Regions from separate parts of the Homo sapiens genome. Here region 1 is linked to region 2. The links come from fine-mapping of genetic effects on gene expression. Tissue or cell type: skeletal muscle. Region 2 holds a variant in brackets; the other region holds the start of a gene. All regions are shown on one strand. Distances are from middle to middle.

What was found. PIP is the estimated chance that this variant, and not a neighbour inherited with it, causes the effect.
Region 1: FKRP starts here. The variant in region 2 is fine-mapped to the expression of FKRP in skeletal muscle (FUSION, PIP 0.95).

The regions. Positions count from the first base shown.
Region 1 is chr19:46,741,243-46,749,331 of GRCh38, forward strand. It overlaps FKRP (fukutin related protein), which reads left to right and starts at 4,815. Exons shown (of 4, transcript NM_024301.5): 1 at 4,815-4,848; 2 at 6,785-6,846; 3 at 7,273-7,423. It overlaps STRN4 (striatin 4), which reads right to left and starts at 5,208. Exons shown (of 18, transcript NM_013403.3): 1 at 4,907-5,208. The coding sequence starts at 5,188. RefSeq lists silencers at 4,754-4,983, 5,194-5,243, 5,254-5,403, 5,444-5,543, 5,584-5,633.
Region 2 is chr19:46,705,150-46,713,250 of GRCh38, forward strand. PRKD2 (protein kinase D2) reads right to left here. Exons shown (of 18, transcript NM_016457.5): 3 at 5,758-5,889. MIR320E (microRNA 320e) reads right to left here and starts at 4,205; the gene lies at 4,133-4,205. RefSeq lists an enhancer at 4,700-5,518. The variant T/C (reference allele first, on the strand shown) is at 3,372.

The DNA.
Region 1 (8,089 bases), 36 kb after region 2:
GTGGACACAGTAGTGGTCTATCTGTGGGGGCAGGAGGTGGAGTTGGGCATCCCAACCAGACCTGTCACTGGCTGGGTTCCCCCTTCATCCCTCTGCTGCCTCATCGAGCTGTGGTCTCCCTCCTCCTAATGAGGATGTGAGGGTCTCAGCTGCCCACTCTGCTTTGCTGTCCCTTTCCCAGTGCCTCTGGAAAGAGAACCAGAAAGACATGGTTGGAGCATCTCAGGGAGGTGGAAACCCACCAAAAACGGGAAGCGTCAGTGGCCAGTCTCTCCCTCGCTGCAAACGCCAGCAGCCCCCACGGGCTGTCTGGTCTGCGAGGGCCAAGGTAGGCCTGAGGGTCGGTCGGGGATCTGGAAGTGCCGCTCACCATATCCACCCACTGCCACTCCCTCTAGCCAGAGCCGCAGAGCATGCGCTCCCAAAACCTTCTGATACCTGGCAGCTACTGCCTCTCCGCCCCTCCAGCTATTCCCAGCAAGGCGACATCTAAAGGCTTCGGAGGAGTCCCAGCAATTCAGTCCTCCCAGGAGCTGATGCCTCTCTGAATTCGCTGCTTCCTGTCCCAGCTAGCTGGGAAGAGTCCCCGTTTCGTGCCATCTAGCCCTGCATCTCCTAAGGGCCTCCTTCCCAAGCTTCAGCAGCTGCTGGCAGGAATGGGCCCCCAGGAAGCTGAAGTGGGCAGGGGCAGCTCCGCACATTCTCTGCTGGCACCGCACTCACTGCAGGTCCCTGTCGCTGCTCCTATACAAATCTCCAGTTCAGATCCCTCATTAAAAGGTCCCTCCCATCCTCAAAAAGCTTCCCCTCTCAGAGTTGCCACAGAACAGGGGCAGAGCCACACAATCAACTGTGCATGAACATCTACAGCTCTGCGGTCCCCTGCACAAACAAGCTTCCTCTGCCAGCCTGGAAGTTTCGGATGGGCAGAAACCACGTTACTTACTTCTCAGAATCCCCCACCTAGCAAATGCCTGCTCATTATCAGACTGCAGCTCCGCCACCTTCCTGCTCCAAACTTATGGTGACTACTGGCAGGACCTCCCTGGGGGCTGCCTTCTCTGCCATTCAACACACAGGTACCAAGCAGGGTCGCACGGCAGGTCTTCTGCTAGGAGCAGCTGTATTAAGCTCTTCAGAGAAAAGTTATTCAGAGTCCATCAGGAAAATCTGACACTGCCTAGCTCTTAAGGGATCTCACAGGGGAAGTCACACCGTCTGTTAGCACTAAGTGTTCAAGTAAAGGTGTGTAAAAGAGGTGCCGCTGATGGGAGAGTAAACTGGTGGGTCAATGTGGCAGAGTCATTCACTGTTTCTTTTTTTATTTTTATTTTTTTTGAGATGGCATCTCGCTCTGTCACCAAGGCTGGAGTGCAGTGGTGTGATCTCGGCTCACTGCAACTTCTGCTTCCCGGGTACAAGCGATTCTCCTGCCTCAGCCTCCCGAGTAGCTGGGACTACAGGCGCCCACCACCACGCCCGACTAATTTCTGTATTTTTAGTAGAGGTGGGGTTTCACCATATCGGCCACGCTGGTCTTGAACTCCAGACCTTGTGATCCACCTGCCTTGGCCTCTCAAAGTGCTGGGATTACAGGCGCGAGCCACCGCGCCCAGCCCAATCACTGTTTCATAAACACATCCATTCTACTATTCCACTCATCTGTTCTGCTTCATTCTTGCACAGGAATAAGGGGTTCTCACTGCAGCCATGTCTGATGGGGGAAAAACTAGAAAAAATCTAAAAGTCCACCAACCAGGGTCAAACTCAATCAGCTATGGTGCAAACATCCCGTGGGACGCTATGCAGCTATCAAAAAGAAAGAGTTCTCTGTGCTGATATGAAAGGAAAACCAAAACAGATTATTATGTCACAAAATGATACATACAGCAGTAGTTCATCTATTACATAAGCACAATAACTCTTCTCTCTCAGGAGAGAAGAGCAGGAAAGGGACGAAGAGAAGGAACTTTCCTTTTTCACTTACATATATATGTGTATACACACACTCACACACACACACACACCCCTCTGAGATGTCTGAATTTTTACTAACTTAACAGAATAAAAGAAAACAAAAGTACAAAGTGACAGTGCTGGTACCATGCCAGACACAAGTTCCTCTCAAACTCCAAGAAGGGTCAGTAAGTGAGGGGATAAACATCTTTTCTCTCATCAGCCTCCAGGATGAGAAGATGGTGTGGTGGGTGCTGTGCGGTGCACTGGTGCAAAGTCCCAGAGGCCAAGATTCAGTCCAAGCTCTGCTATGACTGCTTGGGTGACCCTGGGGAGGCCACTATGCTTGCCTGAACCAATTTTCTCAACTGTACTGGGTAGCAGAGAGGTACAGAACATGGGCTTAAAAGTCTACCGACGGTCGGGCATGGTGGCTTATGCCTGTAATCCCAGCACTTTGGGAGGCCGAGGCAGGTGGATCTCTTGAGGCCAGGAGTTCGAAACCAGCCTGACCAACGTGGCAAAACCCCATCTCTACTAAAAATACAAAAATCAGCCAGGCGTGGTGGTGGTGCACACCTGTAATCCCAGCTACTTGCGAGGCTGAGGCAGGAGAATCGCTTGAACCTGGGAGGCAGTGGTTGCAATGAGCCAAGATCATGCCACTGCACTCCACCCTGGGTGACAGAGTGAGACTCTGTCTCAAAAAAATAAAAATAAAAATAAATAAATAAATAAATAAATAAACAAAAGGTCCACCACAGACCAGCCCTTCTGCTCATCTGCTGGGATCCTAGATAAATCACCCTCTCAAAACCTCCATTTCCTCTCCTGATTTTTTTTAAAGGTAGGGGGAATATCCTTTATCCTCCCAGAATGCTGCAAGAATTAAATGACAGCTCGTATCTACAGTACTTGATACAGCGCCCCAGACATGGTATGTGCTCACTAAATTGCAGCTGGTACCGTTATTGCTGAGTGAGGTAATGACACTGCCTCTGCCTACATCACAGGGCATTGTGAAGATCTGATGAGATGTATGCTGGGAAAGAGCTTCGGAAGTAGAGAGTGGGACAGAAGTGAGAGCAGTTACATAAGGATTCTGCTCCCATCCCAGCCCCAAGCCTCAGCCACCACAAGTGAGGGCAGGGGGAGAGTTACTGGAGGGTCTTTACTCATCCTATGAACAAAATGCTTTTTTTTGAGACAGGATCTCACTCTTTTGCCCAGGCTGGAGTGCAGTGGTGCAATCATGGCTCACCGCAGCCTCAACCTCCGGGGTTTAAGCAATCCTCCCACCTCAGCCTCCTGAGTAGCTGGGACTACAGGCGCATGTCACCACACCCGGCTAATTTTTGTACTTTTTTGTAGAGATGAGGTCTTGCTATGTTGGCCAGGCTGGCCTCGAACTCCTGGGCTCAAGGGATTCTCCCACCTCAACCTCCCCAAGTGTTGGGATTACAGGCGTGAGCCACCGCACCCCATCCCTACCGACACAATTCTCATCAGCTATTTATTTGGGTACCAGCTTCCTACTAGATAGCAAACGGCAAATCGGAAGGGGAAAGGTGGGCTGCTACAAGCAGGTAATGACAATTTCTGCTAATAATAACCCAGTCCAAGAATCTTCAGACTTCCAGCGGGCCATTCCTGATCCCTTCAAATCCGGACATCTCCATGGTCCTCCAGTCACTGCCAATGGACCTGACGCTCCACGAGGTCACAAACCCTAGCCCAACTCCTCAGACTCTTCCATTCAACATCCCTGTCCCAAGCTACCCCAAAAACCACGGGGTCTTTTCCCAAGACTTCCACAAACATATCCCCTTCCCCCCAACCCCAGTCTACCCCCGTTCCGAGATGCCTCCTCATGTTGCCTTCGGGCTCTACAAAATTCTCCCCCCTAAAGCATCACCCCAGGGTAACCCCTAACTCGTCCTCATTGGCACCATCCCAGGACCCTCACCTCCATACTGGACATGCCCAACACCCCACACTCCAGTTCAGGGCTCTCTACCTACATCCTACAACACACGTGCCATCTCAGTGCCATCGCGCCCACTCCTGCACACCCCCAAAGTGGAACTTCCACTCTTAAGCTCTCCCATCCAGGCTCCTAGGGTACATTCCCTGCTCTGTCCACACTTCCACTCCAAAGAACCCTTCCCTGCACTGTGCAGCCACACATGCCCGGGATCCCCAAAGTTTCTCCTCAGAGGGGAAGGCACACACCTTCATCCTGGACCCCTTGAAACCCTCCTCCCACCCCTCGGGTCCTTACACAGCCCTCCTTCCGTGCCCACCGTCCAGTCGCCCCGAAACACACCGATCCCAGGTTCCCGACTTCCTCTCCCTAAATCCTCCCGGTTCCCCATCTGGACCCGCTCTTTCCCAGCGGGTCCCAAGTTCCCCCCTTGGACGCTCCCACCTCCAACCTGCACCTGGCTAGGGCCATGGTCGGGGTCGGGGTCGGGAGTCCCTCGGCGCCCGGCAAGCTTCTGCTTACTCCCACAGGAGACCACTCAGGTCTCCCAGACCCCTCCAGCTCCTCTCCACACCCTTTCCCGAGTTCTCTTAGCCTCCCCTCCAGGGCTCGAGTCGCCTCTCTCAGGAGCCCCGCGGCCAGCGTGCTCAGTCCCAGTCCCAGTCCCACTCCCAGCTGGTTGTGGTCCCTCCGCCCCTTTCTCTCGGCCGGTCCCGGTGATCCCTCCCACCCCCGGTCCCTCCACTCCCACCTCGGGCCGTCCCGGTCCCGTCCCACCCCGGAGTGCCCTCAGGACACCCCTCGGACGGCCCCTCACTCGCCCTCCGGGACCGTCGCGGTCCCCTCCCGCCCCCCCGCCGGCCGTCCCGGCGGCCATTGCTCCAAGATGGCGGCGGCGGCGGCAGCGGGTGAGGCCGGGCCGGGCCGGGCCGGGTTGGGGGTCGGGGGTCCCGGGACAGCGCTCACCTGTAACTCGGCGCGCTCGGCCTCCCAGCGGGCTTTCTCGGCTTCGAAGCGCGCCCACTCGTGCTGGATAAAGTGCAGGATCCCCGGCAGGCTCAGGGGCTCCGGGCCCGCCGTGGGCCCGGGGCTGCCTCCGCCGCCGCCTCCCTTACCTGCCGGGCCCGGCCCGGGGGCAGGGGCGGAGACCGGGGCCGCCCCAGTGGGGCCAGGGCCCGCGCCTGAGCCGAGCGGACGGCAGGAGGAGGCGGCGGCGGCGACCGCGGCGGCCGCTCGCTCCTCCATCATGGAGGCCCCGGGGCCGGCCTGCGCGCCCGCTGTGCCTCGCGCGCCTGCGCGGCCGCGCCAACACCCCCCCCCCTCCCCCGCCGCAACCACCGCGCGCGCGCCCGGCGGGGGACAGTAGGAAGGGGGGCCGGCGGCGAGCGCGAGCCTCGCCCACCCGGGTCTACACCGAAGGGTAGCGTGCCCGCGCGGGGGCCGGCGGGTGGGAGATCGCGCCCCGAGGAGGGCGAGGGAGACCCAGGCCCCGCGCGACGGTCCCCCTCGCTGGAGTGAGACTGAGGAAGGGGCCGCTTTCTGCCCCCCTCCTCCCACTTCGCCCCAGAGAAAGAGCCTTACCCCTTCCACACCCAAACACCACTCTCCTGGACAATTACTTTTACTCTGAGAGAAAGGGCGACCAGCAGTGGCCCCATCCTCTCTGATTGCCGGCCAGGTTGGTTGTCATGGTAACCCTTCCCCAGCGGTGGGGGCGAGGTGGTGGGGAGCAGCCTTCCCCTCGCTTCCACCTTTGTGGTTATGGAGCCCCAAACCTCTTAGGACTCTGCACCAGGAGAAGGTTGCTAAGGTAACCTAAGTGTCCGTGGTGGTCCTTCTGCTCCTATCCTCATTGATTACTATGGCAACCTCCCCCCCACCTAGCATTCAGGTAGAAAGGACCCCAGCCCCAAGGACACTGATCTCTAAGAGAAGCACCTCTTCCCCAGCCCCTCCCCCATAGCCACCTAGTTGGCATTACCATGGTAACCGTCTTCCCCTTCCCATCGTGGGAGGCCCATGCACCAAACTAACCAGGTGTTTTTATTTAGAGGAGATGCTCTGCTGAGGGGCAGTTGCTATGGTTACAGGGCCTGGACCTTCCTCCGGAAGGTGAGAAACAGGCAAGTTCAAGGCCTGGTTACTATGATAATAGAGCAGCCCCCTTCGAGTGACCCTAGGAACCAAGCCCAACAAAGGAGGGGATTTTTTTTTTTTTTTTTTTTTTTGAGACAGAGTGTAACTCTTGTTGCCCAGGCTGGGATGCAATGGCCCAATCTCGGCTCACCACAACCTCCGCCTCCCCGGTTCAAGCCGTTCTCCTGCCTCACCCTCCCAAGTAGCTGGGATTACAGGCATGCGCCACCACGCCCGGCTAATTTTTTTTTTATTTTTAGTAAAGACGGGGTTTCTCCATGTTGGTCACGCTGGTCTTGAACTCCCGACCTCAGGTGATCTGCCTCAGGCCCGCCTCGGCCTCCCAAAGTGCTGGGATTACAGGTGTGAGCCATCACGCCCGGCCAGGGGATGTTTTAAGAATGTCTCTCAGAGGTAGAGTGTGTCTATGGAAGGGGTTGTCATGGTAACAGCTTCTGTTGGCTTCTAGCCCTACCTTTTCTGGACACATTCATGCTAGAGGGATGGTTATAGGTTGCTATAATAACTGACATCCCTCCCATTCACCCCACCCCACTCCTGAGACACCCCAGGTGGTGCCCGAGATTATAGGACTTCAAGAGAAAGGATTCCCTGACCTTTCTCTTGCCACTTTTGTGGATAAGATGAAATTGTGCTCTATTGTACGGAAATGGCTGATTTGGGATTTTCTGGTTCTCCTCCTCTCAGGAGCGCAGCTCAGCTGGGCTGGAACTGCCCTCCTGGAACTCCCCCAGCCTACAACCTAGGAGGTAAGAAGTCCCTCAGTGTCACCTACACTCTCATGGAAACTGCCCTTCCTCATTCCTTAAGGCTTTCCCATGTCTCTCATTTTTTTCTTTTTCTTTCTTTCTTTTTTGAGACGGAGTGTCGCTCTGTTGCCCGGGCTGAAATGCAGTGGCGCGGTCATGGCTCACTGCAACCTCCACCTCCCTGGTTCAAGCGATTCTCCTGCCTCAGCCTCCCGAGTAGCTGGGATTACAGGCACCTGCCACCACGCCCGGCTAATTTTTTGTATTTTTAATAGAGATGGGGTTTCACCTTGTTGGCAGGCTGGTCTCGAACTTCTGACCTCGTGATCCGCCCGCCTCGGCCTCCCAGAATGCTAGAATTACAGGCGTGAGCCACCGCGCCCAGCCCTCTCATTTTTTTCTAACCGTCACATTCCCATTCCACAGGTGCAGGGACTGAGGCTCAGGCCAAATCGCAACTCAGACCCAGTGAACCCAAGGCCTGAAGAGAATTTGGATTCATTTACCTTGTTTTGTGGGGACTGGAGAGACAAGTAAACTCTCAGAGTAACTGTCCCCTCTGACTACCATTTCTAAGGCAAGCCCCCTGTTTCTACTCTTGCGCCCCCTGCTGGTTTCCTGCCCTGTCTGTAAGTTGCATGGCTTTTGTCCGTCTTTTTTTTGTTTGTTTGTTTGTTTTGAGACAGGGTCTCACCCAGGCTAGAGTGAAGTGGAGCAATCTCGGCTCACTGCAACCTCCGCCTCCTGAGTTCAAGTGATTCTCACACCTCAGCCTCCCCAATAGCTGGGATTACAGGTGCGCACCACCATGCCCAGCTAATCTTTGTATTTTTTGGTAGAGAGGGGGTTTCACCATATTGCCCACGCTGGTCTCTAACTCCTGACCTCAGGTGATCTGACCGCCTGGGCCTCCCAAAGTACTGAGATTACAGGTGTGAGCCACCACACGTGGCCCTGTCAGTCTTCTTTCTGTCTTCTGGAGGGCTGACCTAATGAGTACCTCGTTCATTCTGTATCCTCAAAACATGGGGTCCACCACAAAGAATACTTGAGTTTGTTGAGTTACTGAGTTGAATTAATTTATTAATGTGCCATAGCCAAGCTTTGAAAGCCCCTGTCAGGTTAGGGCTGGGGAAGGCTCACTAAAGATGGGCTGAGAGTTGGGGCTTCAGAAAGAACCCAAGAGAGAAGGTAAAGTTTACTGGTTTAAAGTACGACTCTGTAGCCAGCTTCTTGGATCAAC
Region 2 (8,101 bases):
ACACCCCACCTTTTCCCACTGCAACAATGGATGCCTCAAAAGTCCCCGCCAAAGCTCTGACCCAGCCCCAGTCCTCTATGGTAAGCACCTCCTTCTAGTCCTCCCCAAAACTCCTGTCCATCTCCCTAGAGACACCTGTTCCCCCTTCTAACCCTGACCTTCCTTTTTCTGAGGCCCCTTTGGTTCCCCCTCTTTCCCCAACCCCAACTTTCCAAAAGAAAATGCCTCTCCTCACCCCCACCCCTAAGGTCACTATCCCTCCAGGTCTGCTCACCCCCTGTACCCCACTTTCTCTTTTCTGTAGACCTGGAATCCAGGCAATCCCTAAGTAGTGTGATTAAATCTTAGTAGTGTGGGCCACGCATGGTGGCTCACGCCTGTAATCCCAGCACTTTGGGAGGCCAAGGCCGGCGGATCACTTGAGGTCAGGAGTTTGAGACCACACTGGCCAACATGGCAAAACCCCATCTCTACTAAAAATACAAAACTTAGCCGGGTGTAGTGGCACACGCCTGTAATCCCAGCTACTCCGGAGGCTGAGGCAGGAGAATCACTTGAACCCAGGAGGCAGAGGTTGTAGTGAGCTGAGATCACGCCACTGCACTCCAGCCTGGGCAATACAGCGAGACTCAGTTTCAAAAAAAAAAAAAGAGTTCTCAGTTGTACTCAGGTCCATTGTACCATACTAGGCAGAAGTATGACTTCTTATTGTCTTATTTTATTTTGTAGAGACAGGATCTCCCTGTACCCCCGGCTGAAGCACAATGGCACAATCATAGCTCACTGCAGCCTTCAACTCCTGGGCTCAAGTAATCCTCCTGCCTCAGCCTCCTGAGTAGCCAGAACCACAGACATACACTACCATGCCCAGATAATTTTTTTATTTTTATTTTTTTGTAGAGATGGGGTCTCGCTACATTGCCCAGGCTGGTCTTGAACTCCTGGGCTCAAGTGATCCTCCCACCTCAGCCTCCCAAAGTGTTGGGATTACAGGCATGAGCCACTGTGCCCTGCCTATTTTATCTTTTAAAATCCTCATCCATGGAGAAATCAGCTCAACTCCCTGTTTCCCACTGGACGTTCTGTATGTGTGCTCTAATACATCTCCAGTGATTCCAAACGATTCCAGGATCGCTTTCTATTCTGGAGTGAAGAATGTTCCTCCAGCCTTTGGGAGCCCTTCTGGTACCCGCCTGCTCCAGGCTTTCCAGTTCCACACCTCCTCATTGTAGGCACTGTCTTGGCTGCATGCTGTAATCACGGAGGCAAGCTTGGAGAACGGTGTTGGCCCTGCAAGAAGAGCTTCAGCAGGGCAAATGGTCTTTGCACACAGGAACCATTTCCCAGTGTTGGCCTTGAATCACTCATGTGCCTTCCAGAATTTCAGAATCTTATCTATAACTCTCAGAATGAGTCTCAGGATAGAGTTAAACTCCTGTCGGAATGTAGTCATTTGGGGTTCTCTTGCCACCATAGGAACTGGGACCATCATCTGTGATGCTGCACCAGTGAAGTCTGTGCTGATAACCCATTAGGACTTGATGACACCAGGGCTGTATCATGACAAAGACTGCATATGCTGAGACCTCAAGAGTTGGATATGGTGTGTGGACGATGGCAATATTTATAAGAGCTTTTAATGCACTGAATCAGTATCTGCAGGCCTAGAGTCCTTAAATAATACAAGTATACTTTGGACTGCATGATGATCTGGAACACAGGATATTGGAGAAACTGGATTTCTTTTTTTTTTTTTTTTTTGAGACGGAGTCTCACCCTGTCACCCAGGCTGGAGTGCAATGGTATGATCTCGGCTCACTGCAACCTCCACCCCCTCAGGTTCAAATGATTCTCCTGCCTCAGCCTCCCGAGTAGCTGGGATTATAGGTACCCGCCACCACACCCAGCTAATTTTTCTAGTTTTAGTAGAGACAGGGTTTCACCATGTTGGCCAGGCTGGTCTCTAACTCCTGACCTCATGATCCGCCCGCCTTGGCCTCCCAAAGTGCTGGGATTACAGGTGTGAGCCACCGTGCCTGGCCCAGAATCAGGATTTCTGTACAAGCGTGGCACCCACGGAGCTAGAGATGCTGTCTCAGACCTAATACCCAATGGAACATCCAAGAATATGGCTCTAATTGCAGGGCACACCATACAAAAATGGAGGCGCATGGGGCCCAGCGCAGTGGCTCATGTCTGTAATCCCAGCACTTGGGGAGGCTGAGGAGGGTGGATTACTTGAAACCAGCCTGGCCAACATGGTGAAACCCCGTCTACTAAAAATACAAAAATTAGCCAGGAGTGGTGGTGCGCACCTGTAATCCCAGCTATTTGGGAGGCTGAAGCAGGAGAATTGCTTGAACCCAGGAGGTAGAGGTTGCAGTGAGCCAAGACCACGCCACTGCACTCCATCCTGGGTGACGGAGCAAGACTCTGTCTCACACACACAAAACAATGGAGCCACAGGGTCTCATCACAGAATGGATGGTCCTCACCTGTCATCTGTCCTCATAGCCAATGCAGGTACATGGCCTTCATCTGTAGGCAGAGCCCCGATTTCAACATTCTCACTCAGAAGCATGAATAACAGGGACAGAGGACCTATATAGATCTTGACACTTGGGCTGAACCTTGAGACATCTTGGCTTAAAGAACTGTATGTTTTGGACAGGCGCGGTGGCTCATGCCTGTAATCCCAGCACTGTGGGAGGGCAAGGCGGGTGGATCATTTGAGGTCAGGAGTTCAAGACCAGCCTGGCCAACGTGGTGAAACCCCGTCTCTACTAGAAATACAAAAATTAGCCGGGCAGTAATGGTGTGTGCCTGTAATCCCAGCTACTCGGTAGGCTGAGGCAGGAGAATCGCTTGAGCCTGGGAAGTGGAGGTTGTGGTGAGCTGAGATCGCGCCACTGCACTCCAGCCTGGGTGACAGACTGAGACGCTGTCTCCAAAAAAGAAAACCTGTATATTTTTAAACTATGATTTAAGGAGATATGTATGGGTGCTGTTATGGACTAAATGTCTGTGTCTCCCCCAAAATTCTTATGTTGAAACCCTAACCTCCAATGCAACTATATCTGGAGACGGTGCCTTTATGGAGGTAATTAAGGTTAATTGAGGCCGAAAGAGTGTGGCTGTAATCCAATGGGACTGGTGACCTTTTTTTTTTTTTTTTTTTTTTTTTTTCTGAGACAATCGTGTTCTGTCACCTAGGCTGGAGTGCAGTGGCATGATCACGGCTCACCGCAGCCTCAACCTCCCAGGCCCAGGTGATCCTCCCACCTCAGCCTCTTGAGTAGCTAGGACTAGAGGTATGCACCACCATGCCTGGCCAATTTGTTGTATTTTTTAGAGACGGGGTTTCACCATGT[T/C]GCCCATGCTGGTCTCGAACTCCTGGACTCAAGCGATCCACCATCCTCCCAAAGTGCTGGGATTATAGGCATGAGCCACCATGCCTGGCCTTCCTTATAAAGGGAAGAGATACCAGGGATCTCTCTCTCCGTGTCCCATGTGAGCGCACAGTGAAATGATGGCCCTCTGCAAGGCAGGAAAGCAGGCTACACCAGAAACAGAACCCTGCCAGAATCTGGATCTTTGTCTTTCCAGCCTCTCACAATTCCAGGGATTTTGAGAAGTAAATGTCTGTCATTTAAGCCACGCAGGGTGGTATTTTGTTAAGGCAGCCCTGACAAACTAAGACAGGTGCCAGGTTGACAAGAGATGGACCCTGATAGTCATGTTAATGTGTCAGCTTGGCTAGGCGAGATCCACAGTTATTCAGACACTAATCTAGATGTTGCCATGAAGGTTGGTTTGTTTGTGGTTTTTTTTTTTTTTTTTTTTTTTGAGACGGAGTCTCGCTCTGTTGCCAGGCTGGAGTGCAGTGGCACGATCTCGGCTCACTGCAACCTCTGTCTCCTGGGTTCAAGTGATTCTCCTACCTCAGCCTCCCAAGTAGCTGGGACTATAGGCACATGCCACCACGCCCGCTAATTTTTGTATTTTTAGGAGAGATGGGGTTTCACCATGTTGGCCAGGGTGGTCTCAATCTCTTGACCTCATGATCCGCCTGCCTCAGCCTCCAAAGTGCTGGGGTTACAGGTGTGAACCACTGTGCCCAGTCAAGGTTTGTTTTTTCTTTTCACCTTCTCAACCCAGCTTTTCCCCGACTCCAGGAAGAACTGGGAAGAGAAGGCCCCATGGAGGTATTTTCTTTTCTTTTCATTTTTTTGAGACAGAGTTTTGCTCTTGTTGCCCAGGCTGGAGTGTAATGGTGCAATCTCAGCTCACTGCAAGCTCTGCCTCCCGGGTTCAAGAGATTCTCCTGACTGAGCCTCCCGAGTAGCTGGAATTACAGGCGTCCACCAACACGCCGGCTTTTTTGTATTTTTAGTAGAGACGGGGTTTCACCATGTTGGACAGGCTGGTCTCGAACTCCTGACCTCAGGTGATTCACCTGCCTCGGCCTCCCAGAGTGCTGGGATTACAGGCGTGAGCCACCGCACCCGGCCCAGTGGAGGTATTTTCTGGATGTGATGAAAATCCATAATCAGCTGACTGTAAGTGGGAGAGGTGATCCTGCTTGTTCTAGGTGGGTCTCATTCAATCAGCTGAATGTTTTAAAAAGCAGATCAGAGACTTTTCGGATGAAGAAATTCCACCTGTGGACATCAGCTTCAGCTTGTGCCTGAGTTCCCACTTGCCCTTCCTGATAGGATGGATTTTTTTTTCTTTTTCTTTTTATTGTTTTGTTTTTGTTTCTGTTTTCAGAAGGAGTCTCACTCTATCACCAGGCTGGAGTGCAGTGGCACAATCTCGGCTCACTGCAACCTCCTCCTCTCAGGTCCAAGCAATTCTCCTGCCTCAGCCTCCCAAGTAGCTGGGACTACAGGCGTGTGCCACCACGTCCGGCTAATTTTTTGTATTTTTAGTAGAGACGGGGTTTCACCATGTTAGCCAGGAGGGTCTCAATCTCCTGACCTCGTGATCCACCCGCCTCGGCCTCCCAAAGTGCTGGGATTACAGGCATGAGCCACCGTGTCCGGCCTTTTTCCTGTTTTTGAGCCAGGGTCTCGCTCTGTCACCCAGGCTGGTGTGCAGTGGTGCAATCAGGGCTCACTACAGTGTCGAGCTCCCAGGCTCAAGTGATCCTCCCGCCTCAGCCTCCCAAGTGGCTGGGACCACAAGTGTCTGTCACCATGCTTGGCTAATTATTTTTTGTACAGGCAGAGTCTTGCTATGTTGCCCAGGCTGGTCTTGAACTCCTGGCCTCAAGTGATCCACCTACCTTTGCCTCCCAAAGTGCTGGGATTACTGGCCTCCCCCACTGTGCCCAGCCAGATTTGAGTTGCCTAGCCAGCCCACACAATTCTGTAAGCTGATTCCTTGCATATAAATATCTCAATATATATCTCCTCCTGGATGTTTCTCTGCTTGATCCCTAACTGATAGAGGCCCCACCCTCTTCCCCCGCCACCCTTCTGCTCCCCTAGGCTCTGTTCTTAAGCCCCTACTTGTCCCTCCCAGCTCCACCTCCTAGGCTCCGCCCCTAGACCTGAGCCCCGGCCCAGCCCCACCACTCCTTCCCCAAGCTCTGCTTCTGGGCCCATCCTTCTTCCCATTATTACTTCCTAGGCTGCGCCCCCAGCTCTGAGACCCGCTCCTCCTCCCCACGCTGTCCCCGTGCCAGGACCATTACGCTCCGCCCCCGGTGCAGAGCCCCGCCCCAGGCCCCGCCCCCAACCCTTTAGCTCTCACCATCGCACTTGAGGCCCTGGCGCACTAGGCCGAAGAGCATCTCCCCGCAGTGATCACAGAAGGCAGGCGCCCGATAGGAGTGCACCGTGAGGGCGTGCGGGCGGATCTGGAAGTCCTCGAAGGTGGCCGAGGCTGTAGGCGGAAAATAGGGGTGGATGCTTGAGGCGGGGTAGGCCAAAGCTTTTCCAGACCCCACGTTCCCTGATTTCTCACAGTGCTCCCAGCCGCAAGGTGTGATCTTTCCTTCCTTCCTTCATTTGCTCTCATACTACATTCTGCCTGGGTTCAAATCCCAGCTCCACCCCTGAACAAAACACATATATCCCTACGCCCTGGGCAGGGACAGAGCGGGAATTGGGGAGTTGTTTAACGGGCAAGGAGCTTCAGTTTCGCAAGATGACAACAGTTCTGGAGACCGGCTGCACAACAGTGTGCGTGAACTTTAAATTACTGAACTGTACGCTTAAAAGTGCTTAAAATGTTGTGGGCTTTTTTGTTTGTGTTTGTTAGAGAGTTTCACTCTGTCACCCAGGCTGGAGTACAGTAGTGAGATCTCGGCTCACCACAAGTCCGCCTCCCGGGTTCAAGCAGTTCTCCTGCCTCAGCCTCCAGAGTAGCTGGGATTACAGGCATGCGCCACCACACCCGACTAATTTTTGTATTTTTAGTAGAGACGGAGTTTCACCATGTTGGCCAGGATGGTCTCAAACTCCCGACCTCAGGTGATCTGCCCGCCTCGGTCTCTCAAAGTGTTGGGATTACAGGCGTGAGCCACTGCACCCGGCCTAAAATAGTAATTTTTATGTTATGTATATTTTACCAAATTAAAAAATTTTTAATTAAAAATACCACCACCAACAACAAAAAAGAACATGGATAGGCGGTGCCCGGTGGCTCACATCTGTAATCCCAGCACTTTGGGAGGCCCAGGTGGGCGGATCACTTGAGGTCAGAAGTTCGAAACCAGCCTGGCCAACATGATGAAACCCCGTCTCTACTAAAAATACAAAAATTAGCCAGGCCTGGTGCCGCGTGCCTGTAATCCCAGCTACTCAGGAGGCTGAGGCAGGAGAATTGCTTGAACCCGGGAGGCAGAGGTTGCCGTGAGCCAAGATCATGCCACGGCACTCCAGCCTGGGTGACAGAGTAAGATTCTGTCTAAAAAAAAGAAAAAAAAAAAAAGCCCAGTGTGGTGGTGCATGCCTGTAATGCCTATAGTCCAGCCACCTCAGGAGGCTGAGGCGGGATGATTGCTTCAGTCTGGGAGGTAGAGGCTGCAGTGAGTGGTGGTCATGCCACTGCATTCCAGCCTGGGTGACAGAACAAGACCCTGCCTCAAAACAAAATAACAGGGCCGGGAGCGGTGGCTCACACCTGTAATCGCAGCACTTTGGGAGGCTGAGGTGGGCAGATCACTTAAGATCAGCAGTTCGAGACCAGCCTGGCCAACAAGGTGAAATCCCGTCTCTACTAAAAATACAAAAATTAGCCACGTGTGGTAGCAGGCGCCTGTAATCCCAGCTACTCGGGAGGCTGAGGCAGGAGAATCGCTTGAACCCAGGAGGCAGAGGTTGCAGCAAGCTGAGTTTGCGCCACTGCACTCCAGCCTGGGTGACAGAGCGAGACTCCGTCTAAAAAAACAAAAAATAATAAAAATGACAAAAACAAAACAAAACTCAGGTTTAGGGGAGAGACAACAATGAAGATAAAAATTCAAGTGAGGCCAGCTTATGATATGAAAGAGTACTTAAAGCCTGAACAAGGTCACTAAAGGTGTAAATCCAGACTTCTGTCATTCATTCATTGAGCCGGTTTCACTGGGCACTGCAGTATGCCGGAGCAGCAGGGAAGGCAGCCATGAAAAAGGCAGCTGCCCCCACCCTCAAGAGGGACCAAGGGCCATAGACTGCTCTAAGGTGCTGAGAGCATGCCCATCTATACTACTGGAATAGTGAGTGGATGAACTGGCTTCTGGCTGTGTCTTAGAAAATCACCTGGGGGCTTTTAAAAATACTGATGTGCAGATTCCATCTCACTTTGCAGAGATTCTGATTTAATTTAGCATTTTCGTGGCAGGAGCCATGGACATCATAACTTTTTTTTTTCTTTTTCTACTTTTTTTCTTTTTTAGAGATAGGGTCTCTCTCTGTTGCCCAGGCTGGAGTGCAGTGACATGATCGTGGCTCACTGCAGCCTCAAACTCCTAAGCTCAAGAAATCCTCCCACCTCAGCCTCCCAAGTAGCTGAGACTACAGACGTGTGCCACCTCGCCCGGTTAACTTTTTTTTTTTTTTTTTTTTTTAAGAGATGGGGTCTCCTTATGTTGCCCAGGCTGGTCTCAAAC